Linked DNA regions of Homo sapiens: all the other regions are linked to region 3. The links come from fine-mapping of genetic effects on plasma protein levels. A gene starts in region 3. Each other region holds a variant in brackets. All regions are shown on one strand. Distances are between the middles of the regions.

Region 1 (8,110 bases), 180 kb before region 3:
AGGGTGAATCTAAGGAAGGTTTCTTCAGGTTCCATTCCAGGCTTTGTTGCCAACTCTTAATATAAAAGGTAGCCGGAGAAAAACCCAAGGCAATGGAGATAATCAGTCTCCCCACCCAACTGAATGGTTCCTTCTATGTTTCTAGCTTGAGGTAATCTGCTATCCACACATCAGGAACTTCTAACTAAGCCCAGCTAAACAGCTGAAACAAGGAGAAAAGTGTCTCCGTAGCAAGCAGAAAGTGTTGAACTACCAACTAAAATAGCGTTTGCTTTTCTTGTGACAATTTGTACAATTAGGTCTGAAAAAGCTGTTCCTCAATTCTGACCTAAAAAAATAATGTGCGAAATCCTGCCACATTAATATTCCTCAGAGCAATGGAATTATCTGGGAAATTTCTTCTCGATTTTAGAGTTCTCATGGTCCCTGAACCTTCTGTAGTATCTCTCCCTTGGGAAGACTCCCTGGTGTGGTTGTGACCTTGTCTTTGGCAGTACATGTCATTAGCACACTATGGAGGTGACCTGGAGGGTGGGTTAGACTAAGGTTTTGGAGATAGTTTCAGACTCAAAGTTTGGGTTATATGCTTATTATATTATGTGATTGACACCTAGTTATTTATCTTGAGCTTTTCTATTTCCAAATATGCAAAATGCATCTAGTAAAACTGTCCCCATATGGTTATCCTAAGGAATACTATTACTAGAACATTACCTGGCCTATAGTAGAGGCTCAATAAATGTATATCCCTTCTCCAGCACCAAAGTAAAGGGTTCCATCAATTAGATTTCACATCTTTCCAAGCAGCTCCCAGGATTAGCAATATAAGACATGTGGCAGGGAAATATTAGAAAGGAACAAACTGCTCACATTGAATCTTGGCCTTCCCTCATGTACCAAATAAAGTGTCAATGGTCCCCACTATTGGGCTAAATAGCTTAGTAGTAGCTAGATGCAGACACTCATAGGTCAAACTTGGGTCCAAATCCTGGTGCTGCCATTTATTAGTAGCAGGGTTACAGACAAATATATAACCTCAGTTTCCTCATCTTAAAAAGAGGAAAAACTAATAGAATGAGTATGGAATAAGTTAATCTATGTAAAGTACTCAGCACTGTGCCTAGCACAATCAACATCAAATGTTATCTAACATCATCTCCTTTCATACTCTAATCAGCAGAACACTACTGGGTGAGAGGTTGAGAAAAACTCTAAGAGTAACAGGGATCAAAAAATAAGAATCACAAAGTAGTAATGGATAGCTGAAATTCACTCTCTGTGAGGGTGGCTGAGACTAAAAGTGATAGAACCAGCATCTTGATATATGGGACAGAGCTTCTGCTACTGTAAAGTTGGCAAGTTCTGGCTGGGAAGAAACTTGTGAAGAAGGTAAAGTTTGTTTCGTGCATTAGACACTACCCTCTCCTTAATCCTTTTCTCCTTCTTACCCTCCTTCAGGTAACTGGTCTTCCACGACTTCATTTATTTGTTGTAGCCCAGCCTCTCCACCAAATTCCTTCCCCTCTTTCTAAACCAGTGGTTTGGAAATGCCAGTCCATTCACCAAGGGTAGACTGCCCGCATGGAACCTATATGGAGGGCTTGTTAAAAATATTGCTTCTCAGGTTCCGCCCTCGGGGAATCTAATCCAGTAGGTCAGAGGCAAAGCCTGGTTATCCATTTTTTTAATATGTTCCCCAGGTAATTCTTAGGTATAGTCAGATTTTGGAACCATGTTTCTAGCCTTTTCCTACATGAAAATCAAAATTTACTTTTCTTATGACCAGTCTTTGGGTCCATTTTTTCTCCTGACCTACCTGAAAAATGTATTTGTGTTTAGAGTCTACGAATCATTAACTAGCAGCAACTTCATAAGTTTTCCCTCCAAGATCTTACATAAAGGACATGTTATGCCACAAGCCAAAGTATGAAAAATATTAAGAAAACAGAAGGAATATTTGGAATACCCTCAGTCAATTCTTTATAAATGGCAATGACTCTAAAGAATACTGTGAACTACAGATCTCCTATCCTCTTCTCACTCTCCTGGTAGAGAGGTCATGGTTTCCATGAAGGACATACAGAGTATGAAAGTTTGAAGGCAGGGTCAAAGAGCTGCCATTGATATGCAGAGTAAATAACAACAACCACCACAAATGTAGACTGAGCACTGAAGGCCAAGCACCACCTAAGAACTGCTCCAGAGAGAAGAATGTCAGGAAACAGAGTAAAACTCTTAGAAGGAAGAAACAAAAAACTGCATAGCAAGAAAACAGCAGTATCTCCAGGACTCTTAAGTTGGAAATTACGAAACTAGGGTTTTGTGGCCTCTTTCTGTCCTGTGGCTTAGAAGGACAAGCAGGGCTCTTCCTCTGCAATCCCATTTAGACAGCATGTGGGTGGTAGGTCACAGTGGGTCATAGGAGTGTTGCCGGACAGGCCACTTTAATTCTAGAGAATTGAAGGGGGCAATGAGCTCTTGAAAGTGAAAATGGATATAGCAGCTAAGCATTGGCTTTATCCAGGCTGCCCAGCCCCAGTCTGCAGTGTACAAAGGAGCTAGTGGTTTCTATGGAAACTCTGTCCAGACATATTTATTATATCTGGTGGAAACCACAATTCTTCAGAAGTCTAAAAAGCACCTTAAATAGGTCATATCAAAATGGACCAAGACTCACCTCAAGATGGCAAACCTTCCCTTGAGCCTGACAACAGTTCCCTGCCCTTCCAACTCTTCTAAAAGAGACTGCAGAGCTAGAGTGGCAGGCATATTCAAGCATCTCCTCATGAGAAATGCGGTCTGAAGCTGACTGACCTTGGAATATCTCTCCTCTTGATGGTTTTTGGAAGGGAGGCTATCCCCAATATGCCTGTTCTTTATCCTGGGTTCAAGGGAGCAAGCCTTGTGTGGCTGAAAAGTCATTTTAACTTTGATGGCATCATTAATGAGAATCAACAATGCATGGGCACTGCTCAGAATGCAAAAAAAAACTCTGTAATTGGACTCGGGTCACTATCCATAAGGATCTTCAGTGGGTTATGGAGAGATAAAAACTTTCCCCTTGAACACCATTATCCAGCTGTCCAGCCATAAATGATCCAATAGAAACCAATGGACTCCCTCATTCTTCAATTTTCATTAAACCTGGCTCCAGTGACAGACAAGGGAGACAACATTTCCATCCCACCCCAACCCAAAACCTCCTGTGAAACCCCCTGGTCCCACCATCCCCTGACAAGCTGGAAGGCTCATTCCTCTGGAGAAAATACCTGGCATCAATTCCAAAAGGCTCAGAGAACAGCCTCTTTAAGAAGCCTCCATTTGGAAAAGATATTTAAGCAAAGGTGAGCTTGATGAAGTGAAATAGAATTAGCTGCTTCAGTGGCACAGGCTTCTCAGATTCATTCCAGGGTAGACAAGCTTATTCGCTTCCCAGTGGAACGAACTCAACAACAATACATCACCGTTAACTGTGATCACAGCTCCATGGAATTCCAGCCAGTGCCTGGAGCACACTGAGGTGCACTTACTATTTCCCAATCTGCAATCAACCTTTTGTACATTTGCTCCTAATCACGGGATACAGTTTCATCTTAATGAACTGTTTTCTTATCATATTACAGTTGGTCATTTCAGCATGCCTAAGGTCCCATTTGGTAGGTTAAATTACAATTAGGGTCCCTTGGTGTTTGTTTCCTGGCAAGTCTTGAAGGAATTTGATATTTTTTCCCCTTTTCCATTGCTTGATTTCAAGGGCAGAATCAGCAACACTCAAAGACAAAGAAATACCTGTTACAGTCGACATGGAGCAGGAGATGAGAGGCGCTAACTGACAGTG[C/T]AACCTTGTGCCATTGTCCATCTGCCATGCGGTAAGGAAGTGCCTCTGTCCTTGGCTTCCCATTGTGTATGTAGTGATACCGAATCTCATCCCTCAGGCCACTGCTCTCCAGTTCAAAATAGCTGTATGTAAAGGAACAAACATTTGTTTTATTTTAGTTCTGGATATCACAGCCATCATCAATCCCTCAACCCCTTACTACCAGGTCTCTCACAATCTAAAATTAGCTAAACATGGCACAAAGAGCCAAGACCTCAAGTCAATTCACTGTAGGACACCCAATGAATCTATTGTCTGAGAACCCTCGTGGCAACATCTTGAGCCTCTGAAACAGAGATCAATTGGTCCACCATGAGGTAACAAGCCACAGCTAATTAGCAAAACTCAGTGCAGTGTTTCTTAAATACTTCAAAGTACAAATCAGAACCCTCATTCCATGAATGTCTAAAACAGGCCATTCATGTGGAATGGATCTATTGATGGTTATTTTCAGAACTATTATCTTTACCTTTTCAAGAATTAAAGGGAAATGGAAGTCATGTTGGACATCAGGGATTGAAATACATTGTCAGAATGAAAAGATTAGTCTTTTTTCTTCTCTGTAGACAAAAAGATATAATTGAATAACAATTCCTAGATAATGAGTAGGGGAGAAAAGGTTGAAGCTAGTCACATAGGAATTAGTATTTCAAATTATCAGAGAATGAAATATGCAATTAAGTTTTTTCTTTTCCAGGATTATGATCCTGTTTTTCAAACCCATAAGAAATTCTTAGCCTTACCACTGTGGTCTGCACTTCAGTCATAAAATGCTACAAGCAACTTTGGGACACTCCTCAGGCACACAACAGGGCTAGTACTTTCACAGGTGCCAAAACTATTTTGTTTCCTATGCCTCTCTTCTGAAATGTGTCATTGTCATCAACGTTGGGCCTGATCTCACTGCCAGGGCTTGCACTAGGTATTTCACATATACTAATTTATCACTCAAAAAACCTGAGACTGGTATTATCTTTTTTAAAAAACTTAAAAACTGAGATTAAGGATTAAACATACCCAAACCAGACTTAAACTTAGATCTAAATTTGACAGTGTATGCACTTTCTGCCAGTTTGTTGCCCATCCCAGAGGCATGATGACAAAGTGGTGAGGATAGCCTCACCAGGCACTAACTCCAACAACTCATTCATATGGTCAACTCCAGAGCGATTAGCCTAGACAGGTAACTAGGCTTAACCCCTAGATTTGGAAGGGCCTGCTGCTTCTATTCTAATCCACTGAGCTGGCTAACCCCACAAGCCAAAGGGTATTTAATCTAAAAGACAAAATGCATCTTCTATGAGGAATGAAATGAATATATCAGGAAACTCAGCGTCTATTGTGCCTGAATCCCAAAAGTCATGCCAAAGAACAAATACATATTTCTTGCTCATCTTTCACAGATCTTTCCAAAGTAAACAGTGAAGGGCAAGCAGAGAGTCAAGACCAGCCTCTGACCCACCTCATTTGCACCAGTACAAAGAATCATGCCCAAGGTCATAAACTAAAAGAGGTTATTTATACCATAGCAGCCAGCTTCTAGGCCCAGGTTCATACTTATTAGTAATAATTTATGTAATACATACTTTATAAGACTGCACAAAAGGAAATGCTTTAACAAAGAAGACATTTATTTTAAGGGAATTCTCCAGTTTCTTCTAAGTTGTTAGAACACTGAAGAATCAAACAATCGGAGAACTTAGAGGTCAAGAAGATGTTACAGACTATTGGCCATTCATTAATTCATTCAATATGTCTTTACTGAACACATAATGAAAAACTAAAAAGGGGTTTAAAATATATATCCCATGTCTGAAGGTGCTTTGTGAACTAGTGAAGAAGGAAGTAAAATATGTCCCTCCCCACGGCCCCCCCAAAAAAAGGGTGAAAAATGGCCTAAAAGGAACAAATGAGGAGGCAAGAAAAGTCATTTAATGAATGATTGTCATGTGCCAGGAATATGGCAAGTGCTTTCATAGACATCATCTTTTTAATTTCTTTAAGGTAGATTTCATTATCCCTATTTTATAGATGATCAAAGATATTAAGTATCTTGCCCAAGACCATTTAGCACCTGTATAGAAATGCACCACGAGCTTATATTTGAGATCCTACCAGGATTCACACATCATGAGAAATCTCTCAATTACTTTACTTTGACCAATAAGCAATTACTTGGGGAAGGGACATGACCTTGAAAGGGCTTCAATCAATGACAATTAGAAATACTCACAGAAGTCACCTGCTGGAATCATTAAAGAGGGAGGCAAATACATTTAACCAGATTTCATCATTATTCTTGGGGTTGTGGCCTCATTGAGCAAGTGTTCAATGTATTATAAACAGATCTCTTAAAGATCACTTTATAAAGCACTGGAGTCAGTGATTACATTGGGGTAATCACAAATATATAGCTAGGAGAAAAGAAGTCTGTCCTAATGTCAGGCAAATGATACTTTTATCTTAGACTAAAGTTTCTGGCCACATCCTGCACATATTCAAAAAGTGCTGCATCTCATGCAACTTGGATGAAAATCAAGATGATATATTTTTGAAAACACATGTCAGATAACTGCTGAAGCAGCCTTAGCAATAATAAAAACACTGGATGGCTAAGTGACATCTGGATAAAATTCTTTCATGAGGGCTAGGAGGAAAATAAGGCAATATTTCCAGGCAGTAATGCTCTACAAATAAAGATGTGAGGCAACTCTGAGCAGAAAGTCATTTGGCCTGATGGGATTTGGCTGTAGCCTGGAGGGAAGACTCATGTTTTCTAGTAGAACCTTGTGACTCAGGGTGGTCTGTAGAACACCAATAGCAGCATCACCTGTGGAAATTCAGATTATTGGGATAACCCCAAGGTCTACTGCAGCAGAATCTGTATTCCAACAAAACTCCCAGATGATTCATGTTCTATGTTTACATCTGTGTTTAAGAAGCACTATAGTAGTATGCCAGGTGTTGCCTTACTTCCTGGCCAGCTGGTCTTGATGAAGGGAGCAGAAGTCTGACGCTACGAGCAAGTGAATAGGAGCCACGTGGCGCTGCCAGGTAGAAGGAGGACACTGGAAGTGACAGTAGGCTGATCTAGTGAGCAATCTACCCCTCACCAGTCCTCATTCTTCAGGACTCAGGTGTATTGGGGTCTTTTCAAGAGTCTCTGGGGAGGGCAGCTGTATAAATGATAAAATTATAAGCCAGATTTTGTAAGCAAAAGATTTTGCAAGCCCTTAGCCTTGGACCTCAGCCAAGTGTGTTGTTCCAACAAACTGCCTTCGCTCCCAGAAAAGTCTGCTCATCCTGCAAATATCGGAAAACAGCAGTGATATTCCCTCTTCTGTTTCAAGCCAAGCTTCCCTGGCTCCTTCCTTTATACTCCCATCTCCATCTAAACTATGAGCCCCTCCTGGACAAGGATTCTGCCTTCTTCCTCTTTGCAGCCTTCCCCATGTTGGTCACCATGCGCTAGGCATGGTCAAATGAATCAATTTTCCACTTAAATACAGCATCCAGGAATAAAGGCACTTGTACAGATGTGGTCTAATGCAAAGTACAGTGACACTATCACCTGCTTTGCTCTGAGCTGTGCACAACTACGCCTACACTGACTTTCCCATCAACTAACACCCCAAGACCTTGAACACAAAATGTTATGAAGGCAAATCTTTTCCAACCTGTATTTACTTAGCTGAATTCTGTAAGCCCAGGCCTTTGCTTAAGTGCAAGGTAGACCCTACCCAGAATCAACATGCATAATTCCTCAAAGGTCCACCCTTGGGTATCAGGTACAATCAGTATTATCATGAACTGAAGTCGATTTTCATGAGACTATCTGAATTCCTTAGTAGATCTGGAAATAAATTCAGGAACAATAATTCTAAAAATATAGGTAGATAAAGATCAATCAAGTTATTTTTATTAAAATTTTTATCATTTTCCCCAAAATTGATACCAAAGTATCCTATTTTGAGATTACATACATAATATTAAAATATATAATATAATTTTATATTTATATATTTATAATAAAATTTTATATTCATATATTTATATAAAATTTTATATTTATATAATATATAAAATATATTATATTTTATATATAGAACAGAAGGGCTAGATATATTCAAAATGTTAAAGTGATTATTGCTGGATGAATTAGGTGGCTTCTGTGTACAAGAGTGAAAACAGTAAAAGTTAATTTTAGATAGCATCCAGCACTAAATCACAAGT
Region 2 (8,110 bases), 260 kb before region 3:
GCTTCTTCCAAGGCTACCTGATCCACAGCTGACCACAAGCTAACCACATAAATGGCCTGGCTGGATCCTCGCCATCATGTAATCCAACCCACCGCAGAGAGTTCCACCCCTCGGGGCCCTATCCAGGCCAATATGCCCCACTCAAGAACCTCATCTAAAGCCCACACATCTATCTATTCATTTTCCAGAAGTGATAGGGACCATAAAATTAACACTTACTCGGCATTCCCGACAGCTCTTGGTTAAAATCCGCTGGCCTTCTGCAAGAACTTTTCCTCCATAGATACATTTTGCTGTAATAAAACATAAAAATGGGTCAGACAGTCCTGCTGTGCCACAAAATGACCTCAGAGGTACCTTCTAACTCCAATAGATTCCACAGAAACCTAGATTCTCTGCTTCTGAGCAATACAAATCTCTTTGTCTAAAGTGAAAGGAATTGTGTGGAGGATAACCCTTAAATCTCCCAGGCAGACCTCATCATGATTGTGTTTGCCTGGCCTTTACAGCCAGGATATACAATTATTTCAATGTTACAGTTGCCAAAGGAACTAGAGAATGAACTGATGTAGTAAGAAGCTAAAACAAGAAAGAACTGGTGGCAATCGCTGTGGAGTACAGTTAGCAGTAGCTTTGATTCAGACACTCCAGCTAAAATGAACTGGGTGAAAGGGGACTCACATATATTCCATTCCTCAGAACCTCAGCCACAATGGAGAAGGACACCATTTCTTCTTCCTTGTGATCATGGGAGTGGGCGTGAGAAATACACATGTGAGACAAGTGAGAAATACAAGGAAAGCCTGTAAAGTGCTAGATCAATGCACTAGAGAGAATGCCTTTGGAAAGGTGAGTTCAAAAGGCTGCCAGGAAGGGCAGCGGGGGTGAACTTGTAGAAAATTTCAAAGAGAAACATAAACGGAGCTCCTACCACTCAATTTAGATTGCACTGAAACTCATTTCTTGACTTAACTGGCTGACTCACTTTTAAGCAAGTACAGCATATGTCAATTTGATATGATCCTAATATAACACCACCAAATTCTCCATCCACTTCAACAGGAAAAAAAGAAGCAAGTATCTGGTCACTCCCTCTCCTGCCCTGATGAGGACCCTTCTAGCCCCAGCTCTAGGAGGAACAGAAGCAATAATACGCACTCTAAGAGATCTCACCCACTAATTCGGTGTTGGTCTTATAGAACCACCTCACCTTTCAGAGCCTCTATATCTGTATCTGCTAAAAATGGGCTGATTAAATCTGGTGGTTTACTAGTTATAAAACCCTCTGATTCTCACGGGATGCTCAGTTATTCTTCATTCAAATAATATTCTAGTGTTACTAAAGGGCAGGCAACATGCTAACTGGTAATATAGTGTTGCAAGAACCAAAGCTTTCTTCTCATGGAGCTTACAATCAGGGAAATAGACAGTAATTACATAATAACATCAGTGAATGTATAATTACTAAGTGAGGCAAGTGCTGTGTTTGCAGATAAAGAACCTAGACCCCCTTCGATGTTGAGGGGCAAGATCTGAAAGGCAAAGAGGATGACCAGGTGAGAAATGGGGCTTTCATTCCTCCCTTCCAATAAAACAAACAGTAGTCATCTAGTCCATTTTAGCCACAGGAAGAAGAAAGTCCAGGGACATGCCTAAGTTAACGTCATACCCTGTAGTGGATGCTGTGGTACATGGAGATCCACTTCCATGAGCAAAGGATACATTCTTACAACTGCTGTGACAGTTGGCAACTAACGGCTCTCCCCTGAATGGAGATCTAAGACTTGTATAGGGCTGTAGAGAGCCACCTTGCCCAAGGTGAAGTTCTCTTGATGGGTGAACATGGTACACAGTCCTGGCCCCCTTTCTCCAACTGAGGACAACTCCGAAGGGCCATTCCAGCTCCAAAGCTCCCTGTAGGAATGAGTTCGGCATTTGCTGTAACCACTGCAGCTTAACTTCTCCTTCTGCCCAATTCTTCTTCCTTCACCACCTCATTCCTATCCCAGAATTGATCCTGAGAGCACTTCCTAATAAAGTACATGTAAATCTCTATGTCAAAGTCTGTTTCCCCTCAGAACCTGACCTGCAGCAACCTCACTCCCCACCCAAATATGTTCCACTCCTGTATTCTCCTCTCAGTGAATGGCAATGGCATGGGTATCCATCCCAGCTCCCACACCCTAGTGCCTGGCAACCTTCTAACCTCTCCCTCTTACACAACTCCATGTCCAATCAGTGTCCAAATCCTATCAATGTCCCCTTCTTAAGTTTCTCAAGTCAACCTCCTCCTCTCCATTCCTCACCCTCTGCCCCCAGACACTGTCTTTGTTCAGGCTGTCGTCATCCCTCTTCTTCAGTACCACCACAACTTCCTAGCTCTCTCATGTTCTAGTCTCAATCTTCACCAGTCCTTCCCCATAAAACAGTCAGACACATATTTTTTAAGTGCAAACATGAGGCCCTGCTTGAAATCAGGGTCCCTAAAGCTCTCAGAATAAAGTCCAAAATCCTTAGTTCAGCAAACAAGGCCATTCATGAGGCTTCTTATCTCCCAAGGTTCACAGCCCACCATTTCCCGTGATTTCATTCACCCTACAAAACATCCACACCTCCACATATGTTCTAGCCATGCTTTATCTCTCACTTCCGGGCCTTACATATACCGTTCTCTTTCTCAGAAACACGTGCAGAGCACCCCATCCACCTTCCACTGGCAGCCTCCCACCCTATACACCCATGAGCTTCCGCTTAGGGCTGACTTCCCTCAGAACTTGTTCTTACCCTTTAACACTGGTTAATCGTCCTCACTTTTTTATTCTATTGTACTTTGAACCTAATCCCAACAGAATATATATCACATGACATCCTAATTTCCCATTTAATTGTACACCCCACCATGTCCCTGCTGCTAATTGCAACCCCCATGAGGGTAGGGAAAATGTCTATAATTTTATCTCCAGCCCAAAGCCCCATGCCTTAGGATTTATTGAGAGTAATAATAATTTTCCAATTAATGAGCCTCTAGTAGGTGGCAAAAAACAGTCAAATTTCTTGATCCACAGATAAGAGTTATTTCTGGCATTCAATACAACTTCAAACATTAGAAGTAGAGACCAAAAAAATGGAGAATTAATATAATTGTCTGGATAGGTCCTTTCCTCCCTTCAGTAAACAAAAATCTATCCCTGATCATCTTTTATGCCTCAATTTTGTAGATAAATCAGTTGACCATGACTCGTTGGTCCTAATGAGAGCTAGATTTCCCAGTGTACTTGCATGGAGAGACCACACCTCCAAGGTCTGGAATTCCTGTCTAATAAATTCCCACACTCCCAAATGTGCCTGCTGCCAACTTGGCAAGGCAGCTTGTTCCAAAGTGACAGTTCTGCTAAGTGCACTGTTGTCAAATCTGCCATCTGCTTCTTGGCCCAAGCTGTGAAGCGAAGAAATAGACATTTTTTCTTCCTTTGCCCCTTGCCACTCCCACAATGGTATTAACACATTTGATCACCTGCCTTAAGGCACTTGTCCAAATCCTCTCTTCCCCTTTGACAGGCTCATCCCAAAACTCCTAATCTGGAGATAAAAATGCCTCATTGTTTACATTCACACCACACATGGAGACACATCCACCCCTCGAATCCACCAGTCTCTTATAAAAATTAAATGTCCACTGAACTTTATGTACTCACATAGCAGGGTGCTTTGGTGCTGGTGAATGAGATCAACATATTACTGCACGCCTCAACCATCTGCAATTTGGCACTAGTGCAGAATGTATGTATCTATGAAATTATCTTAGGATGACTTTCAGGATCACCACTGGAGGTCACAAGAATTTCTCCTGCTTTCTCATACTCATCCTCACTTCTCTGACAACAGCCCTCCTTCCCTGCCACTGCATTCCTATGCCTAATATCAGCCCTTATTATCCAACCTCTTGATCTATAGCCAAAAGGCTTATTTTTTATGTCTGAGGAAATTCAAGCATAAGGTGAGTCAGGCTCTGGTGCGTTTGGCTGGGGCATTTGGGACTCCATTCGAACATCTTTCAGGGTGATTAGAAATGTAAATGGATACCTAAAGCTCTTCATATCACACTGGTGACATGCAAACTAGAATATTTCACAGTGCCCAAACACAAAATTGAAACCTAGCACCAACACACACTTCTCCATTATGTCAGAAACAAAATGTACTGAGGATATAAAGAGTTATGCAGCTGTATCTTTTTGCACCGACAGACACCTGGCCCTTCAATTTTGACCTTGATTTTTCTGGTGCAATGATTGGACAATTTTGCCATTTGGGTGCACACTGAATAAACAATTGACAAGTACAGCTTGACATC[C/T]CTGTCAGATGTGGATACAAGGTTTCCCTATCTTTATTTAGGTATTTGTACCCTGCACACACTCCAGCCATCCCTTGGTACTCAGCGGCCTAGAATGTCAAAATCAGCACACTGTTTTACACTTTAAAGGAGAGTGGCAGATCAGAGAGACTGAACACCCAAAGATCCTTCCTCCCTCAGTGAGCTAATTCACAGCCTTGGCTTCAGATACCACCTCTATGAGCAAGACACCCACATCAAACTAGTTGTACCTCAGGCATCTCTAACTCAAACATGTCAAACGGAATGTATTGCTCCCCATACTGCTTTCTCCACCTGTCTTATTTCTGTTAATCACACCGTGAGTCTCCCACAGGCTCTTGTTCAAAACCTGGCAATTTCTCCCTTACAGACGCTCTGTCCCTGATCCATTTGTCTCATGCAAAACAATACCTGTGGAGTATCTCTAATGTGCCAGCTCCTTTGGCTGTCACCCACATCCTTCCCTTCCTTTGCATCTTCCCAGGCTGTGCCTGCCTGCCAGCCTCAACACCTCCACCTGGAATATGCCCAAGTCCCATATCCCCCACCACCTCCAGCTCTCTTGATGCAGTAGCCTTTCTAAAAGCACATCTTTGATTATGCCACAACTCTGCATTAAAACCTTGATTGCAGTACCAAAACCAACACTGGTTTATTTCCATGATTTTGTGTATGCAATTCCCTCTGGCAGTTATGTTCTTACCTACTTTGTACACTTGGAAAACTCCTCTTCATTTGTCAATACCCCGCTCAGCTGTTACCTATGACGTTTTCCTAACACACACATACATATGTACATTTCAGATGGAGTTAATCACTCCCTTCTCTGTGTGACTTCTGTGTCTTCCATAGTGTTCATGTGAAATAATATTCTTTATTGTAACAGAGATCTCTCTGGAGAACAATGGTTAGAGCCAACAGGTCAAGAGCATCCCACTGGGTTCTGAAGCCAGACTGCCAGGGCTTTATTTTGGCTCCCCCAAAACTGGGAGACCTTGGACAAGTTACTTCTCCTCTCTGTTTCACCTCCTCATGTGTAAAATGGGGATAATAGCGGACCCTACCACTTAAAGTTGTTGGAAGAATTAAATGAATACATATAAAATGGTTAAACACAGTGCCTGTCAGAGTAAATGATCCATACGTGTCCACTGTTGCCCCCAGAACTGACAAAGTGTTTGGCAGAAGGACCTCGGTAGGGATTACTGAATGGCTTCATTGGGATACAATCTTCATCATCCATCCGCAACTCACGTTTGCAGCTCTATTTCAACCTCTCACCTACATAAATCCTGTGTTATCATCAAACACACTATTCCCCTTTCCCTCTTTCACTCTTATTCCTTCACACATACTGTTTTGCATAGAAGAAATATTTTTTTCTCCATCTTCCTCCCTCCTTCCTATCTCTGGTAGATCTCAAATCTGTCTACCAAAATAATACAGATTTCAGGATGTTGATGCCTGGAGATTGTGATTATGTAGGTCTAGGTGGAGCCCTGGAAACCTCCAAGTTTAAGAAGTTCACCAAAGGATTTTAATGTGCAAATAGGTATATTAAATATGCCTTGAATAGTGCAGACACCCAACAAGTGTTTGAGGAATGAAACTCCCTCACTATTTTCGGTACCGCCATGGATGCTTAGATAAATTTCTTCCCTATTTCCAAACAGACGCCCTCATCTGTAAGTGCTGCAGTTCCCAAGGCCAAGAGAAGTCCGTGAACACTCAGTGAGTGAGCAGACAACACAATCTGCTTTTACATATTGGCTCATTTTGCCTTTGTCATAGCCCTACCTTTACCTGGTGTCCCTAGAATACTACCCCACCTAAAGTCAGAGAGAAGCTTGGGAATTTTTCTTTAAATTCACATATAAGAAATTTACTTCAGGCAGCTCCACAAAAAAAATGAAAAAAAATCAAAATAAGGAACCAAACCAAGGAAAAACATGGTATTCAGGAAACAGTAGTTTCACTTATATCCCTCACAACATTAAATGTGAATGGATTAAATGATCCAATCCAAACAATACAATCCAGACTGTCAGACTGGATTAAAAAACAAGATTTGACTATAAGTTATTCATACAAGATACAATTTTTTCTTTGTCTTTTTTTATATTTTATTATTATTTTTTAACTGACAAAAGGTATGCATATTTACGGTCTACAGCATGATATTTTGAAATACGTAGGCACTGTGGTATGGCTAAGAACTAACTAACATATGCATTACCTCACATACTTATATTTAAAAGGGACAACCAAAGTAAATATACTCTACCATGTTTCTGATGTGAAGACATTGGAAACATCTAGAAATTCCACTGATTAGTGTTAGAACTCTGCTCTAGCAATCCTCATTCTCTTCTTCTCCACCCCACTGCTTAACCCACAAAAGTCAACTTCTAGAAGGTTCAAAATATTTAACTTGGCTCCATGTCCTCCGGGAAGCATCCCAGGCCTTCCCCCGGTATTCTCCCCCTCCCTCCCAGGCCATTCTTCTGTACTCCAACACATGCCTAATGTTAGTGCACTTACAGTTCCAGACACTGTAAACCACGTCTCTACCTTGAAAGTGAGCTCCTCTAAAGCAGGGAAGGATCCCTCATCATTATTCCAGGCATCAGTACTCAGTAATCACCTAATGCATATTTCTATTAAAAACTAGTGAGAAATGAAAGCCCTCCAGCCCAGAAGTTCTCAACCTTTTAATTACCAGAGGTGCCTTGTATCATTTCTTTTTAAGTTTGTCTAGAATAGTGTTTTAATAATTTATTTGTATTCCCACTTTATTAAACTCTGAACACATCAAACTACCAATCAGAGCTGTGAGAAAATTAGTGCTACCTAACTAAATTGCTATGAATTCCATGCAAAGGGAAAAAAAAAAAAAAAACTGATGTTTTAGTTAGTGTGTGTATCAACATTTTAATAAAATTGAGTTATTTTCTGAAATAATTTTAAAAACCTAAAACTATCAAACAAATTAGCACAAAGAAAAATGACCGTCCCACACACGTCTAGTGAGAGGGCAATTTAACTGTATGTATCCAGGGCCTTGAAAATGTTCATCTTTGGCCCAGTAATTCTGGCCTGAAGAATTCTATTTTCAGGAAATATAAAATACAAAAATATACAAAAATGTGTTTTCTATACAAAACATGTTATTTAAGCGTGCTTTATAATAGTGAAAAGTGGGAAACAATCTAGATATCAATGACTTGGGACTGGTTAAAAAAAAGTTATGCAACAGCCAAACAATGGGAAACAATGAAGCTCATGAAAATGACATTTATGCAGAAGTTTTTAAAACATAATAATATATTTAAGTGACAATGGCAAGTTAACAGACTAGAATAAAAAATTGCCCACACAATACAACCTCAACTGCACACAAAATGTAATTTTTCTTAAAAAAAGGACACATCCACTAAAATTTCAAGAGTGTTTCTAAGTGGAGCTATTATGGGTGAACTTTCCATCTTGATCTTTATGATTCTCTGTGTTTTCAAAATGTTAAGCCAAAAGCACAGTGCTTTTATAATTTTAAAAAAACGTCAAAAAGTTAAGACACAAACCTGCCGAAGGACTCATTACTTCCATGTCCAAACAACAACTTTCAAGAGATGGCATTCAGAGATCTATGCAGGAACTCTAAATAATAGACTAAAACATCTCACATTTTTTAATACATCCCTAATAGCCTTTTTTTTTTTTTCTTTTTTTTTTTTG
Region 3 (8,110 bases):
CTCTGGACCATGCAGACTAAAAAAATGCTCCAAGAGCTCATTTAACCACAGAATTTCACAACCACTTAATCAGGTTTGGGCCCCTGGGCACCTACGAAGGTCCTTAATACCCCAAAAGCAATTTTCTTGAAGAATATGCTCTATGCCTGTTCCAAGCTGGCCAGTATTTTCCATGATCCTTGGAGGCTGGGGGCTCATGTTCACAGTTCCATTATTCAATTCATAATTAATGATCCACCTGAGAGTTCCTTCCAAAAGAAAATCTCTTGGCCAGGCGCAGTGGCTCACACCTGTAATCTCAGCACTTTGGGAAGCCGAGGCGGGCAGATCACCTGAGGTCAGGAGTTCGAGACCAGCCTGACCAATATGAAGAAACTCCATCTCTACTAAAAATACAAAATTAGCTAGGCGTGGTGGTGCATGCCTGTAATCCCAGCTACTCGGGGGGGGGGGGGGGGGCTGAGGCAGGAGAATCACTTAAACCCAGGAGGCAGAGGTTGTGGTGAGCCGAGATCATGTCGCTGCACTCCAGCCTGGGCAACAAGAGCAAAACTCCATCTCAAAAAAAAAAAAAAAAATTCTCTCCTTTCCAGCAGGTGGCAGCAAAAGACATTCACTTGGTCAGTAGGGGCTTTGCAGGTGTAGGTACTCCCTTCACCCTCTGCCCTGGTGACCAAAACAAACTGGAAAGCAATGTGGGAATAATTATTGAGTTTTCAATTATTCACACTGCCAAAGCATTGGTGAAAACTCATAGAGATAGTGTGTTATTACTGCTATTATTGTAGCCTTCTAAATTTTCATTATTAGTGATGTACCTGAAAATCTCTGAATTATTTCTCAACCAGAAATAACAAGAACTGGAGAATGGCACCTCCCGTCTTGACTCCACTTTGCACTCTAAAACAAGTTCTCTGAACAAGGCAGATTTAAGCAGCTCCTCATGACACCTATCATTAGATCTTTTCATATGCAACTGTGTCTGCACTGCAGTCTTGCTTTAATTAAAATGTGCCTGATATCATCTACTCAGTTCCATTAAAAGCCGGTGATATCTGAGCAGCTCACTAAGTGAACCACATGTTTATTTCATCTAGGACTGTTAACAGCCCAGACAACAATTGTCCCACTTGACAAAGAAACTTTCAACGCAGCTGTTTGGATGCTGATAATCACAAGCCAGCCTTTGTTACCTAAGAAGAGGGTGGATGGATGATGTGGAAATGATTTCTGCACAGAATCAGAGGGCTGCCTCCAGAAAGCTACCGCTTATACCCTCTCAAGCTACAAGATACTTTAAGTGTACAAATTGAGAGGTAATTCCCCCGTCTCTCTGATTCTTCCGATAATGTGTGTAGAAGAAATATGCGGCCTCTAGTGTTCAAATAGTGCCAAGTGACATTGAGAACCCAAGCTCCCTAGGCAACAGCCACAACCAGTGGGTCAGATCCTTCCATGCTTCCCTGCCTTTGCTGAATCTGCTCCCTCTGCCAAGAATGCCTTCCCACTTTGTCCACCTGGAAAACTCCCTAGAAAGCCTTGAAGGTACATCTCTCAAATCCCTGACCACCACTCCTCCCTAGAATTAATTCAAACTGTCTCTCCTCCACATTTCCTTAATACAAACTTATACTCCTACCTCTCCACCACCCCCCCCATCAATCTGTAAAATTAAAATGCCTGCCAGTTTCTATCTAGATTCCCAGCTGAGCTTTAAGTTCCTAGAAGTCAAGGACTGTCATTTCCTCTTTGCATAAGAAATCCTGGCACCCAGCAAGACATCGTTTGTTGAATGAGTAAAGACATGAATGAATCTTCCCCTACAACGAAATTTTTACAAGATTTAAAGGGGATTGGAAGTGGAAAGAGGGAAAATACCTGTTCTTAAAGACCCCTTCCACAAGCAATGAACCCTGAAACACGTTCCATTCCGTGATAAGGGTACTTTGGCGACTTTTCAAAGGAGTAATGAGAACAAAGGATTTAGGCATATTCCGTAGTGATGTGCACTTAGGGATGTGAACTCACTAACGGGTTGCCCCCTCCCTACCTAGCTTCTTCCTGTCTGCGGTTCCTCTGTAAGATGTCCACGAGCACCAGACTCTCGCGCTCAGAGCCAGTAGCCCACGCTCTGCACTAGTCTTGCCTGTCCTGATCTTCCTGGGGTGCGCGCACTCCTTCAGCGTGTCCTGGTTTTAAAAGACTAACCCATCCGGATGGGCCTGAACTCAAGAAGCAACTATTCTAAGCTAGACTGAGCCTTGGCGTCTCCGCAGCCTGGGAAGCTCGGATAGAGGTAAGGAACGGAATGGGAGGTTTCTTTTGTCCCTTGAGAAATCCATATTCAACATTCTTAACCAGACGAAAGCCGCTGCCTGCTCAGTCCTGGGGAAGTGGGAAGGGCCCTCTGAAAGCTCCTAGACGCTAGATCTTCCAGCGGGCTAACTGCCAAAGAGGGGCGCCTGGGCGCAAGCGGAGGGAACTTTTGAGCCAACCAAGTGCAGACGCCCCTTCTTAGCCCTCTCCAGATGAACTTGCTCTTTGGCCTAGAGAGAAGGCCACGCCTCTAAAGAAGGAAATAAGGATGGTAAAGGGGGGAGAATAAAGGGAAAGGGAATGACCACACAGATTCTGGGGTGCAGCGCGTACGGAGGATGGCTGGGTAGGATTGCAAACCTCCGACACTCCCCCCAGTTGACAGGCCCTATTTTTGCCAATTTCCTACATCTCACCCCACCTCACCTCACCCCAGTCTCCCCGCATCTACTACTAGCTCTTTGAAGAAGGCGGCTGCAAGCCAGTCTCCGAACCCCAGGGGACTTTTGGGCAAGGGAGCCGGTGGAAGCAGAAGGAAGAAGATGCGCTGAGAGTCCTCACAACTGCGTCTCCGGAGGCAGAACGAAGTGGGGACTTCAGACAATCAAGCGTCATCCTTGCTCCCCCCTCCCCACACGGAACCCTGCGATTATGGCAAGAGAAAACTGGTTTGAGCTTGAGAAAATTTCCCCAGATTGTCTCCACTGCTCTATTTCCCTCAGATAATTGTTCGCCCAGCCCTTGGGAGCAAAGACAGGCGGAGGAGAATACTCCTGGAGTTCTCCTGGGTAGTCAGGAAGGCACAGGAGGAGATCGCGGGATCCCAGGGTTCTCCCGCAGCTCTCTGCCCTCGCCGCACCGCGCCCTCCCGGGCCCCGGCCGCGCCCGCCAGCCGGAAGCGCTCCCTCTGCGGGTGCGACTCCCGCAGCTACCCCTTCCCAGCCTGGCGGGGGTCGGCGAGAGTGGTTTCCACAGCACCTTACAAGTTCGGGAACTCGGGGCACGCGGGCCCGCCCTGCTGCGGGTTTCGACTCCCTGGGACGGAAAGCCGGTTACTAGCAGCAAGAGGGTGCGCCTACTCGGCCGCGCCCCTCACTCCTGCGCCCCTGAGGCCGGGTCCCCTGAGAAGGGGCACTCAACGGGGACATCTTCAAGCCCGTGAGTCCCTATTTTCACCCTGTCACTCCGAGCAGGGCAAAGAGATCCCAGGAACCGGTCCACGCTACCGCCGTTCCCCAGACCAGCGCAAAGCTCGGCTCCAGGTCTCCCCACGCCGCCGTGGTCTGTGGGCACCCCCATTTCCCGGATCCCTCTAACCGCCACAGTCATGCTTACCTGTCCTGGCAGTGCACACACAGAACCACACAACTAAAATCAAATCCATCGGCATCGCTCTCGAGGGTCCCCGCCTAGCAGGGGGCACCGAAGCTAGGTGGAAGCAAATGAGCCTGGATCCTGAGGCGCGCCTGGCTTGGAGCCGCCAAACTTGCTAGCGGGCGGCGGGGGAGGTGGCTCGGCAGCGCCGGGTGCTGCGCTCGCATATGCGCCCGGGAAGGCAGCCCCGGCCGCCCCGCCCCCAGCCCGCCCCCCACCGCTGGCGCGGCGGCGGCGGCGTGGGGCTCGGGGCCCGGCCCCCCGCTGCGGCTGCGTTCGTCTGGGAGCCCGGGCAGGAGCGCGGGGTTTGGCTACTGTGGCTTGTTGCGCTCCCCACTGGGGGCCGATTCCGTTCGCCTCCTTCGCCCGCAGAACTGCGAGGATCTGGACTGCAGGCGCCGCAGCCGCTATCACCCGGAGCACCGAAGTCGGAGTCCCAGGACCTGCGGCCGAAACGAGAGAGCGGGAGGCGCACGGCGCCCCCACGGCTTCACGCGCTCCAGCCCCTCCGAGCCGCAGTCGCCAATGTTGCCCTCTTTACTTCCGCACCGCGGTGGGGGCTGCCGAAGTTGCCACAGTTCATCCCCGCCGAGTCGAAAAGCCGCCGAGCCCTCGCGGGTGGGTATTTTTCCTCGGGGGAACCCAGACCGAGGCGGCGCCACCGAGCGCGCACGGACCCCCTCGGAAAACAATTACTCGGGATTCGCTCTGTCAACTGGGTGGGGAGGGACCTGAGGGGGATGATGGCTGAGTCCCTGCTCACCGCCTGTACCTTCTGTCTCCTCTCTCCTGTTGAACCCCTATGACTGAGTACTCTCTTTGTGGGTGCAGGAAGAGGGCGCTGAGGTGGGGGTGCAGAAAAGGGGTCCTCGAGGCGGAGCGAGCTGTGGTTGGGGTTTGGGAAGTCTATTTGCAAACCTTCTCATTCTGCAGGGCAGATGCTGCCACATAGGGGTAATTCCTAACCATCTTTTTTTCTTTCTTGCGTGATTTTCTTAATGGTATTATCAAAAGCCCACTCTTCTTTCATAGTCACATTTTGGCCCCATGTGCAATTCCTCCGGGACCTCCACCTTCTTTTCCCTCTCCCACCACAACATTCTCTGGAGAGAAAAGCTGGGCTGGGCTTTGTTTTCTACTTGCCGGCAAGAAGAGAATGGGTCCTCTCCCCTCTATGCGACCCTTTCAGGACCTGACCTTCCCTATGAAGATCCCCCAAATTTAAGACTTCTGTCCCACTTCCTATTTGTCCTACTAACACCTAGGAACGTTATTTATAACTGGATATGTAGAGTCATGAAATCTGAAATGACAGCCTCTGATTTATACCAAATGAACTCCACTTAGCTTGCTCAGTCTTCCCACTCTCTCTGAAGCCCCCGCTCCCCCTCACCAGCAGTACTCCTTTGATATTCACAACAGGGATCCCAGAGGAGTCCAAGGAAACCTCAGAACAGCCGTCCCTCGTTTCCTGGAAACCAATTCCAACGTTTCAGAATCCTCTTCACTAATAAGAACGTGCCCTTCTCACTTGCACCCACTTTCACTTCCTATATCCTTAACCCCTACACAACTTTGACCCCAGGAGCCCCAGTGAAGTTCACCAAATCAGCGCAGCTTATTAAGAGAGAAGGCTTTACTAGCATGCTGTTCTGGTCTCTGCCCTATTTTTCTGGATATTTCTGTGTGCAAGCCACTGTCCCATTTGGCCCTTTATGTTGTGGTCCTTTGGCAGATGAAAAAGAAAGTGAACAAGCAGGTAAATTCCAGCTCAAGAAGTCTACTGCACAATCCAGAAGTTGAGCTGAATGATTAAGAGGTAAACTGATGTCAGCTGACTCCAACTCAGATTCGGCTAAGACCCAAAGGAAATCTGTCTGCCTTGACTCTGTATTTTCACTAACAGAGTCCACGTGTTTTTCCTTCCACCCGGAGCGTGTTGCATTTAAAGCTAACATTAAAATCACACATCTTGAAGAGAATAGGATTTCCCAAGTCTTGTTGGGCCTTGTGGACAAGGACACCATACACCATGTTGTATTATAAGAGCCATTTCCTGTCTCTCCTCTGCAGTCTTTAAGTACACCTCAGCAGGAACAGCCTTGAGTTGCTTTGGACTGTTGTTTCCAAGGCCCTTTTATTGATTTCAGAAAGCCCAGAATCCTTAAAAGTACAGTGACCCCAGCAAGGGGAAAAGGTGGTCTGGGTAAGATCTTCAGAGCTCTCTATCTTTAAAGTCTCTGTGTAATTAGCTGGTCCTGTGGGATGGGACTTTTAGCTTGTTCCATTAAAAAATAAAGCAAGACATATGTTCTGTCATAGCTTTGCAGCATAACATCCATTAACAGTAACAAGAGTTAATCTCAACAAGGTCATAAATCTTTTCTAGATAACTAAGTACTGCAATCTCCTCCTATAAGTGCAACCCTTGAGTGGGGATTTTGAGTGTGTAGGTCTGTTAAGCTAAGGTGACCTTCATAGAATGGGCCCAGCAAGTTTCTCTAGTGACAATGAAGGGACACATGGCTATGTATGTACTTGGTGGTGGAATGTTACAGTGAGACCTGTGTTCGGTGGAAGCCACACTGAAACATCTTACCTGATGCCAGATCCCAAGTCCACCCTCCCCTTCAGGATGGCCTACCTCCATGGGTTCTTCAGGAGCCAGTAGTTGTCTTTGATTATCCCTCTGCCTCTTCTTCCTGACCTCTAAATGTTGGAGAGCCCCAGGACTCACTCCTCAACCCTTCCCTTCCCGCCACACTCCCTCCCTATTAAGCTCATCCCACCTCATGGATTTAAATATCTGTGCAGGGATGACTCTCAAATATGCATCTCTATCCCCAGCCTCTATTTTGAACCCCAGGCCTACATCTCTAACTACCTATTAGACATCTTGAATATAATATGGCCACATCATCAAAATTAAAAACATTTGCACTTCAAAGTACACCATCAATGAAGTAAAAAAAACAACCGATGGAAAAGTATCTTTGCAAGACATATCTGATTGGAACTTGTATCTACTAAAAAACTATTACAACTAGATAATACAAGACAATAAAAGGTCCAATTTGCAAATAGGCAAAAGATCTGAATAGATATTACTCCAAAGTATATATACAAGCGGCCAATAAAGACATGAGAAGATGTTCGACATCATTAGCCATCTGGGAAATGCAAGTCAAAACTACAGTGAGATATCACTTCACATCCACTAGGACGGCTAGAATAAAATAGATAATAAATGTTGGTGAGGATGTGGAGAAATTGGAACTCATATACTGCTAGTTAGAATGTAAAGTGTTCTTTAAACAGTTAAACATAGAGTTGCTGTACAGCAACTCTATCCCTAATATCCACACAAGGTAAATGAAAACATATGTCCATATACTAACTTGTACATAAATGTTTAGAGCATTATTCAAAATAGCCAAAAAGTAGGAACAACCTAAATGTCCATTGACAAATAAGTGGATAAATAAAATGTGGTATGCCTATATAATGGAATATTATTCAGCAATAAAAAGACATGAAGCATTGACACATACTACAACATTGACCTTGAAAACCTCACACTAAGTGAAAAAAAGCCTGTCACAAGGGACCATATATTATACAATTTCATTTCTATGAAAAGTCAGGAGGCAAATATATAGAGACAAAACATCTGATTAGTGGTTGTCTAGGGCTTGGGGCCAGGGAGGTAGGATTAGGGGGTAATGGCTCAAAAGTGTAGGGGCTATTTTTGAGGTAATGAAAAGGCTCTAAATTTGATTGTGGTGATGGATGTAAAACTCTCACATATATTCACAATATAGTAAAAACCATTGAATTGTATACTTTAAATGGGTGGATTGTATGGTATGTGAATTATATCTCAAGCTGTTTTTTAAAATACTTTAATGATCATGACAAAAAATTGTAATATGGCCAACTAAGGACTTTTGACTTTTCCCTTGTCTTAAATTTCCACTGCTGACTTCTACGGACATGGCATGAGCCTTCACCAAGTGCTCCAGCTACATAACCCAGGGTCATCCTTGACTTGCTTGCCCTTAGCCCCCACACACAAGGCATCAAGCCCTGTCAGTATACCTTAAAGAAAAATCCCCAGTCAAATTTCTCTTCTCACCAGGTCTCCTCCCACCTTCCTCCAACCCATCATTATCTCTCCCATAGCCTACAGCTATAGACTCTCAATGCTTCTCTCTGCCTCCATTCTTGCCCCGTATAATTCAGTCACCTCCACCTTCAGCAGTCATAGTCTGTGTTTTGTAACATGTATCATATCACACTCCCTTGCTCAAAACTCCTCCTGGAGTTTTCCATCATATTTTAGTAAAATCCAAACATCTTATATCACCCCTGCTTCTCCTCCCAGGTCCCTCTCTCCCCATTCTCCCCCTAACTCACTCCA
Region 4 (8,110 bases), 220 kb before region 3:
AGTAGGATTGCTCCTGTATAGGGTGCTTGACAACCCCTGTTGGAGGGTCTCACTCAGTTGGGTGGCACAGGGAGCAGGACCTGTTTAATGAGGCATTTTGGCCATTGGTGGAGCGGGTGTGCTTTGCTGGGGGGAAACCTACTCGTCTAGACTGCCCGGATTCTTCAGAATTACCAAGACAAGAGGCTAAGTCTGCTGGTCCACACAGACTGTGGCCACCTCTCCCGCTAGGGGCTCAGGCCCAGGGAAATCCGAATTCTGTCCCTGAGTCTCCGGCTGGAGTTACTGGAAATCTGCCTCCCTTGGCTGCAGGGAGGGGGCTCCCCTTTCCCGTGTGGCTCTCAGATGGGCCGTCGCACCGCACTGTTCCTCCTTCTCTCCATGAGTCACGCCAGCCTTCTAGTCAATTTTGATGACAGAACCCGGATATTTTGGTTGATGGTGAAGGATTCCATTGTCAATATTTTTAATATTATTTTTCTAAAATTAAGCATTATTATATTTTAATCAAACAAGGATAATGGCAATCATTCAGAATAATAATCACTGAGATTTGTGCATACTGTCAACATGCATTTGCTCTCCAATTCTTCTTGCACTGTATGTCTTCCTTCCAGGAAGTTTTTTAAATGAAGATCTATTGGTTATAAACTGAGAGTTTCATTTCTCTACTAATGTCTTTATGTCACACTCATTCTCAAATGACAATTAAGCTTGGTATATACTACTACATTTGAAAGTTATTTTCTCTCAAAACTTGGAAAACACTTTTTCTACTGTCTTTTGACTTCTGCTTTTACTGTTTAAAAACCAGCTGTTCAGTTTGTTATCCTTTTGTGAAAAATTTGTGTTTTGTCACTGGCTATTTTTAAGATCTTCTCTGTGTCTTTGGAGTTCTGCTATTCTGCCAGTATATCTAAGTGTGGCTGTCTATTTATCTTGATTTGTATAATAGGTTGCTGATGTGGCCAAAAAAAATTCTTCCCTCCTTGCATCCATATCCTTGCAATGTGATATCATGGAGCAGCCCTTCAAGAGATGAAGTCTATTTATTTACATTTTGACTCTGGAGTTGGCCATATGACTTGCTTTGGGCAATAAAACATTAGCAAATGTGATCAAGCAAACAAAGCCTTGAAAATATTAGTACTTTAGGGATTGCACTCTTCCGATACTTGGAATCCCAGGGATGACATGTAAATAAGCTGAGCTAGGCCATTGGAGATGAGAGACCATGTGAGGACAACTGAGGAACAAGAGTCAACAGCCAGCCAACCCCCAGAGAGGTGAAGAGGCTCTCAGATCATCCTGCCACCTGCTAGCATGCCAATTAACCACAGACATGGGAGACAGCCTAACAAGTATCAGCTTAGCCAGGTCAAAGCAGAAAAAAATTGGTTTTTGAGCTAAATAAAATGGCTGTTCTGATGCCTCTATGTTTTCTATGATTTCTATGTGAAATCAACAACATATACTTTTATTTCATTGTTCTTTCAGTAATGAGAATTAATGTCTTTTATTAAGTTTAGAAAATTCTTACCCGTTATACTTATAATAGTGCCCATAACCTTTATCTCTGTTTACTATCTGGAATTTTCAAATATATATGCATATATAGACATAATATATTCTTTATTATCTTCCTTAATTTTTAAATATATGTATATTATAATAATATACATATCTAAGAAGCTATCTATCTCAGCTATCTAAGAAGCCACTTAGAAAACATAGAGGCATCAGAACAGCCATTTTATATAGATATGCATACATATTCACACATATTAAACAGATACGTAAACTTTTTTTATATACATGTATCTGTTCTATATTTTAACCTCCTTCCTATTTTCTTCTCTTTATCTCTGAAGCACTACTATTAGTTTAATTATTTTAACAATATTTTCCATTTCACAAATGCTCTTCCTACCTGTGTCTAATCTGTTTAGCAGGTTCACTGAGGTTTTTGGTTTTTGTTTCTTTTTTAACTTCAACAACTGTATCTTTCATTTTTGGAAGTGCTTTTTAGTTCAACTATCTCTGGGCCTATTTATTATCTCTAGTCATCATACATTCTTTATTATTTTGATTCTTCAAACATTTTAAACAGAAGTTTTTTAAAAAATTAAAAAAAAATTCTTTACCTGCTAATTTCATTTTCTGTAGCCCTGTGAGGACTAACTGAGCATTTTTTTGTTTCTTTCCACTGTCATTCGTGATGGCTTTAGAGCTCCTATTTTATGGACTTAATCTGTGGGCATCCTTTGAGGTCTACATCAAAAGTGACTTTCTCCAAAGATAATTTGTATTTTCTTCATCAGGACTCCCAAGGTACCTAATCCAGGGCCACTTTAATATACTTTATTGAGCTTCATGGGTAAAGTAAATCTGGGTGTCAAGTCTGCAACCCTTCAAGTGCTGTGGTTTACTAGTTCTCTGGGAAGTATTATTTTTTCTCATCTGGAGATGAGATGCAGACAGGATAGTTTCTGGATTGCCTCCTTCTGCTAGATAGTGGACTGGCTTTACCTTAAAAATTTCCATTCCAACACTCAGTCACGCATGGGATCTAAGTAATTTCTCCCATCCCACACAGACGGTTGAAATTTAAAGCTCTAACTGAAATTTTCATAGATTGCTGGTGGGAATGCAAAAACTGGCACAGCTGCTTTGAAAAATGGTTTAGCAGTTGCCTGTGAATTTAAACATACACTTAATATACAACCCAGTAAGCCCACACCTACACACTTACCTAAGTGAAATCAAAACCGCTGTTCACACAAAAACCTGTATGCAAATGTTTATAGTGGTTCTATTCATAATTGTTCCAAACTGGAAATAACCCAGATGTCCATCAACTGAAGAATGGACAAACAAAATATGATACATTCATACAACAGAACTGGAATACTACTCAGCAATAGAAAACAATGAACCACTGATACACACAACAACTTGGTGAATCTCAACATAGAAACTTATGTAAATACACACACACACATAAATGATTCCATTTATATAACATTCTGGTAAAGACAAAACTACAGGGTCAGAAAACAGACCAGTGGTTGCTAAAGGCTTCGGGTGAGGAGAAGGGTTTAATACAAAGGGGGATGGAAATTTTTGGAGATAAAGAAATGGTTCTTTATCTCAATTACAATGATGATTATAATACAGTGTAGATTTTCCAAAACTTGTGACACTGTACATTAAATGGAATGAATTTTCCTGTATGTAAATTACATCTTACTTTTTTTTGGTATTATTTTATTATACTTTAAGTTCTAGGGTACATGTGCACAACGTGCAGGTTTGTTACCTTGGTATACATGTGCCATGTTGGTTTGCTGCACCCATCAACCCGTCATTTACATTAGTTATTTCTCCTAATGCTATCTCTCTCCCAGCCCCAGTGTATGATGTTCCCCACCCTGTGTCCATGTGTTCTCATTGTTCAACTCCCACCTGTGAGTGAGAACATGCGGAATTACACCTTAATTTTTTAAAAATAAAAAAGAAGGAACCTAAGGCTCTAAGTTCTGGTACTGATACCCCTCTGGCTTTCTCTCCCCTCCATATATTTGGTCCCCAAGGAATTCCTTTCGTATAAGTACAATGCTGAATTTTAAAATATTTTTGTGGTATTTTATCGAGCATTATAGTCATTTTGAAGCAGAAGGATTTTTAGAATATCTAGTCTGCCATATTGCCAGAAGCAAAAGTGTGTCATTCTTTCAAAGAACAAGACTGTCTTAAAATTTCATGGTATTTTTAAGTTTTTAAATTTATTTTATCACTGTATCCTTATGTTTCTGTGAAGTATAATAATGCAGTTTTTTTAAAAAAAATTTTGGATGTAGGGGGTACACACGCAGGTTTGTTACATGGGTATACTGCATGATGTTGAGGTTTAGGCTATGGATGGTCCAGTCACTCAGGTAGTGAGCATGGTACCAAATAGTTTTTCAGCCCATGGCTCCCTCTCTCCCTCCCACCTCTAGTAGTCCACAGTGTCTACTGCTCCCATCTTTGTGTCCATGTGTATTCAGTGTTTAGCTCCCACTTATAAGTGAGAATATGCAGTATTTGGTTTTCTGTTCCCAGTAATGCAATTAAACCAAAGCTCAAGGAAGCAGAGATGTATTTTTCATATCTAGACATCTACTCTAAACTGAATTAACATATAATCTGAGAAGGGAAACCAGTTTGAAGATTATCGTAAATCCTTCAGAATTGGGAGGTCAACATTTTGAGGATCATTTGCCTTCTGGATCATCCATCCCTGGCAGCAGAGTGAACTGGATAACCTTGGGCAAGTCACTTAACTCTCTGCCTGGTTTCAAAGCACCTACTTCACAAATTACTGTGACAAGTAAACCAGTTTATTCATGTCAAGCACATAAAAAAGCATGTGTCACAAAGTAAGTGTTCAATAAACATTAGTAGCTATTATGCCATGCCCTTCCCACTAATGTAATTATAAACACGGCTCCAATAAATAACACAGAAAACTGAGCATCGCCTATATATATACTTCAATAAAAAGAACGTTAGTGCTTACTTTGAATAAGCCATGCTTTTGGTTG[C/T]GCTGGCCAAGCCATAAATTGATTCCTGGGGGAAGGTTGGTATCTGGAGGGTCTATCACACGCTCATAAATCCTGTAAAGGCAAAGAACACAGTTACTAATAGAGAGGCTCAAAGCAGAACCAAAAGGTGCATATGCTGTTTGAAGTATGCATGCCATTAGCTGCTGTATGAAGAGAAGCCAATATGTGGCACACTTTACATGACAGATAACATGAATGTAGAGATCTAACACTTGGACACATCATCTGGGCCCCTCCTGCTTTTGTCTCCCTTTTGGCAGGGGAGGGAGGAAGAAGGTGACATTTTTGAGTGTCCACTCTGAGCAATGAACTGCCCACAAACTCTGTGGGGAAAGTGGTTTGATACGCATGTTATAGGTGCGAAAGCTCAGATTTAGGAATCATAAATGAGTTAACCAAGTGAAGACAGCAGTGAGTAGTAGAGTTGGGATAAGAACTCTTATCTGCCTGGCTCTAAAGCCACTGTACTTTCCTTTGCACCCTGCTATTCTCCGACTTCGGTTTCTTTAGGTCCTACTCATTTCTGCAGTAACCTGAGAGAACCCTTTAAACAAGTAGATTGCAGCTGCCTAGATGATCATGTTTTTAGTCTACAGAACTACACAGCTTAAGTCATCGTCCAACCAACAAATATTTATTGAACACTTTTTATGCTCTAAGCTCCACACTAAGCAACAGAAAATAGAGCAAGAAACCAGACACACAAGGTCCCACTCTCATGGAGGAAAAGTAAGATAAAAATTCTATATATGAAGAAAATCCTCATCTGATCCATACAGGCACATAACTAATACAGAAGATGTCAGAGCCCTACCTAGGATCTTTGAAGTTTCTAGCAGAGCCTACCGAACAATTAATGTCTCAGTTATTCCATCCTACCAAGGTCCGGTTAGTTGGTCCCAAATCTTTTTATTCGTGCCCTCTTTAGAAATAGTCCCTGCAACCACCCACTGATCACGAGCTTCCAACCTCACCCCGGGCAAGTACCTCTCAGCATTGGATGCTCAGAAGATTCTGGGTGGGATGAAACACAGTGATCTGTAAACGAGAACTATGTCCATTTCTTGCTTTCCTGAGTCCTCGCTGAGGACTGAGCAACGGCTGCGGAATCATTCCTAGGTGTGTCCAGAGGTACGGACAGCTCATCACTCCTCCCTGCTGTGATGGAGCTGACTGCCTCCTGCCAGAGGGCGATGTATTCCTCCGGTGGTTCTCACAAGGAAAGTGCAGAAGAACTGAAAGACTGTCCACTTGTGTCAAGGAAAGTGAGTGATGGTGAGCCTGCTGCAGTTGGGAGCTGTCGCGCTGCAGTCTTATATCTTAGCTGCACAGTCCATTACTCTACTATTCCCCACTGGAAACCTGCTGTTTCCTAATACATGCAAGGTTTTCAGCTGGCAAAGCTCCAAGCACATCAGGTCTTTCTCTACTAATTATCCTTCCATTATAAGTGGACACTCAAAACATAATCAGGAAAAAATAAGTTTTCCTAAAAAGAAGACAGAATGTGTTTTCTTTACAGGAATCTAACCTTTTTTGTATCTTAGAATGAACGATTTTAGACGAAACTATTTGTCAAAACTGCCTTAACACAGGAGCATGATACACACTTCCTTTAAAATTTTTTCTCCTAACATTAGTGGAAAAACTAGACACAAGGCAAATTTACAACTTAAGAGATATGCATAAGTTATAGATCAGCTTGAAAGAATTTACTACAGTCATTAAGTGTGATGAATATGCAAGTTATGAAACAAGGGAAAGTATATACAAAATATTTTTCACTGGAAAAAAGGGAATGCAAAATTATTTATGCCCTATAGAGATAATGAGGCACAAATGATGTTCAATGTTGGTAAATACCAAAAGAGGCCAGGGAGAAATGGAAATCACTGTATTTGGGTGACGAGGCAGAAGCATGATTTCTATAAGGCTATTTTACTAATAAATTGAAAATGTTGAACCATTTACCTTAAGCTCAATTTTAACAACTTTGCCTCTGTCACAGTTAGACGAGCTTTCGATTCAAAAGTTTATTTTATGTATTCAATAGGCTAGAAGATAAGCTCCAATGAGCAGAGTAGGCCCTTAATCAATATTTATTAAATGCATGAATTAATGAAGGAAAAAACAATCAAAGAGATTAACTTCCTATCCTACCTTATCTTGCAAAGCATAATAGCTCCGTGTGCCTTAGAAATAGTTGAAGAAGCAAACATCTGAGGCCCACTATCACCAGCTAAAGCAGGGTGACCCAGGGCACATGTGTCAAAGTGGTGTTCTCATTTCCCATGTCATACAGCCCCCACAAAGACACCATCCTGATGCCAAGGAAGCTCTGCCGGATGCTGCCTTCCTGGCAGCCCTGCCAAATCTGTTCCAAGAGGCAGTCTGCATTAGGGAATTCTGTGCAGCAGGTGGAATCAACAAACTGGATACAGATGTATCAACATGAAGAGAGTTTAAAAACAGTATTTTTTTTAAAAAGAAAACTTGCTGAGGAGGGAGGAGGAAATCTAATCATGAAGAAACATCAGATAAACCTCAATTGAAAGACAGTCCACAAAATAACTGCTTGTGGTCTTTAAAATGTCAATGTCATGAAAAATAAAGAAAGGCTGAACAACAGTTGGAGATTAAAAGAGAGACTTTAAAAAGACATAAAAGCTATACGCAAGATGGGATCCTGGATTAGATGCTAGGGCAGGGGGAAATAATCCCATAAAGGACATTATTGGGAAAATTGGGAAAATTTGAATAAGATCTGTAAATTATGTAATAGTATTTTATTGATACTCAATTTCCTGATTTTGCTAACTGGGCAGTATATACTTAAGTGAAAGTCTTGTTCTTAGGAAATAGGCACTGAAGTATTTAGGGGTAGAGGGTCATGATGTTTACAACTTAACTCTCAAAGGGTTCAAAATAACAATACTGTTTGTATATATAAGTATACACATCTATGAATACACGCTTTCTCTTCCTTCCAAATAATGCAGAATCTGGGCAAATATGATTGTTCCTTGTATCACTCCTATAAGTTTTCTGTGAGCTTAAAGTTATATTAACATTAACAGTTTAAAAAATAGAGAAAAAACCAACAAGGTCCATAATGTATGTAAACTAAAAATTCACACATGCAAAACAATGTTATCGATTAGCTAAGGATACGCACAGAATTTTCCTATCACAGGCCTGGTGGGAATGGTGAGGCAAGAAAAAAGTGAATGAATGAAACAAGAAATGTGCACGGCACAGACTAATGCTGATAACACAAACTAAGAAATTGAATTATCACATTCCTACACGTACCCCTATAGAAGGGGAGCTATACATGCCAGCCAAAGTAAAATCAGAATCTTAGCACAAAGGCTGCTGGTCCCTGAGGGACAGTTTGGGTGGACTGGATCATGTAAAAAGGCAGGTAGGGCACAGTGATCTGTCACTTAAATCTGGCGTCACCCAAGTCAACTAAAATGAAAGTCACAGCTAATATAGTGAAC

Which allele goes with the higher level. Positions count from the first base shown, and alleles are read on the strand shown. Strength reflects both the effect of a copy and how common the allele is. Not every link is listed here.
With allele T in place of C in region 1, the plasma level of the protein whose gene starts at base 3,844 in region 3 is lower (moderate association).
As copies of C replace T in region 4, the plasma level of the protein whose gene starts at base 3,844 in region 3 goes up (moderate association).

The links. PIP is the chance, under the fine-mapping model, that this variant and not a neighbour inherited with it causes the effect. Protein levels are from antibody-based Olink assays in UK Biobank. Linkage for the fine-mapping came from a reference panel and not from the study's own genotypes, which makes the PIPs less certain.
Region 1: its variant is fine-mapped to the plasma level of the NELL1 protein (UK Biobank, PIP above 0.99). The variant lies in the coding sequence of NELL1. If it changes the protein, the assay may bind it differently, which can mimic a change of level.
Region 2: its variant is fine-mapped to the plasma level of the NELL1 protein (UK Biobank, PIP 0.97).
Region 4: its variant is fine-mapped to the plasma level of the NELL1 protein (UK Biobank, PIP above 0.99). The variant lies in the coding sequence of NELL1. If it changes the protein, the assay may bind it differently, which can mimic a change of level.

The regions. Positions count from the first base shown.
Region 1 is chr11:20,843,433-20,851,542 of GRCh38, reverse strand. NELL1 (neural EGFL like 1) reads right to left here. Exons shown (of 20, transcript NM_006157.5): 4 at 3,790-3,960. Among named protein-coding and RNA genes, the nearest start is that of NELL1, 180 kb to the right of the region's middle. The variant C/T (reference allele first, on the strand shown) is at 3,839.
Region 2 is chr11:20,929,969-20,938,078 of GRCh38, reverse strand. NELL1 (neural EGFL like 1) reads right to left here. Exons shown (of 20, transcript NM_006157.5): 10 at 220-293. Among named protein-coding and RNA genes, the nearest start is that of NELL1, 260 kb to the right of the region's middle. The variant C/T (reference allele first, on the strand shown) is at 4,355.
Region 3 is chr11:20,665,320-20,673,429 of GRCh38, reverse strand. NELL1 (neural EGFL like 1) reads right to left here and starts at 3,844. Exons shown (of 20, transcript NM_006157.5): 1 at 3,652-3,844. The coding sequence starts at 3,706.
Region 4 is chr11:20,881,992-20,890,101 of GRCh38, reverse strand. NELL1 (neural EGFL like 1) reads right to left here. Exons shown (of 20, transcript NM_006157.5): 5 at 4,562-4,658. All of the region lies in intron 2 of LOC105376585 (a long non-coding RNA gene), which reads left to right. Among named protein-coding and RNA genes, the nearest start is that of NELL1, 220 kb to the right of the region's middle. The variant C/T (reference allele first, on the strand shown) is at 4,587.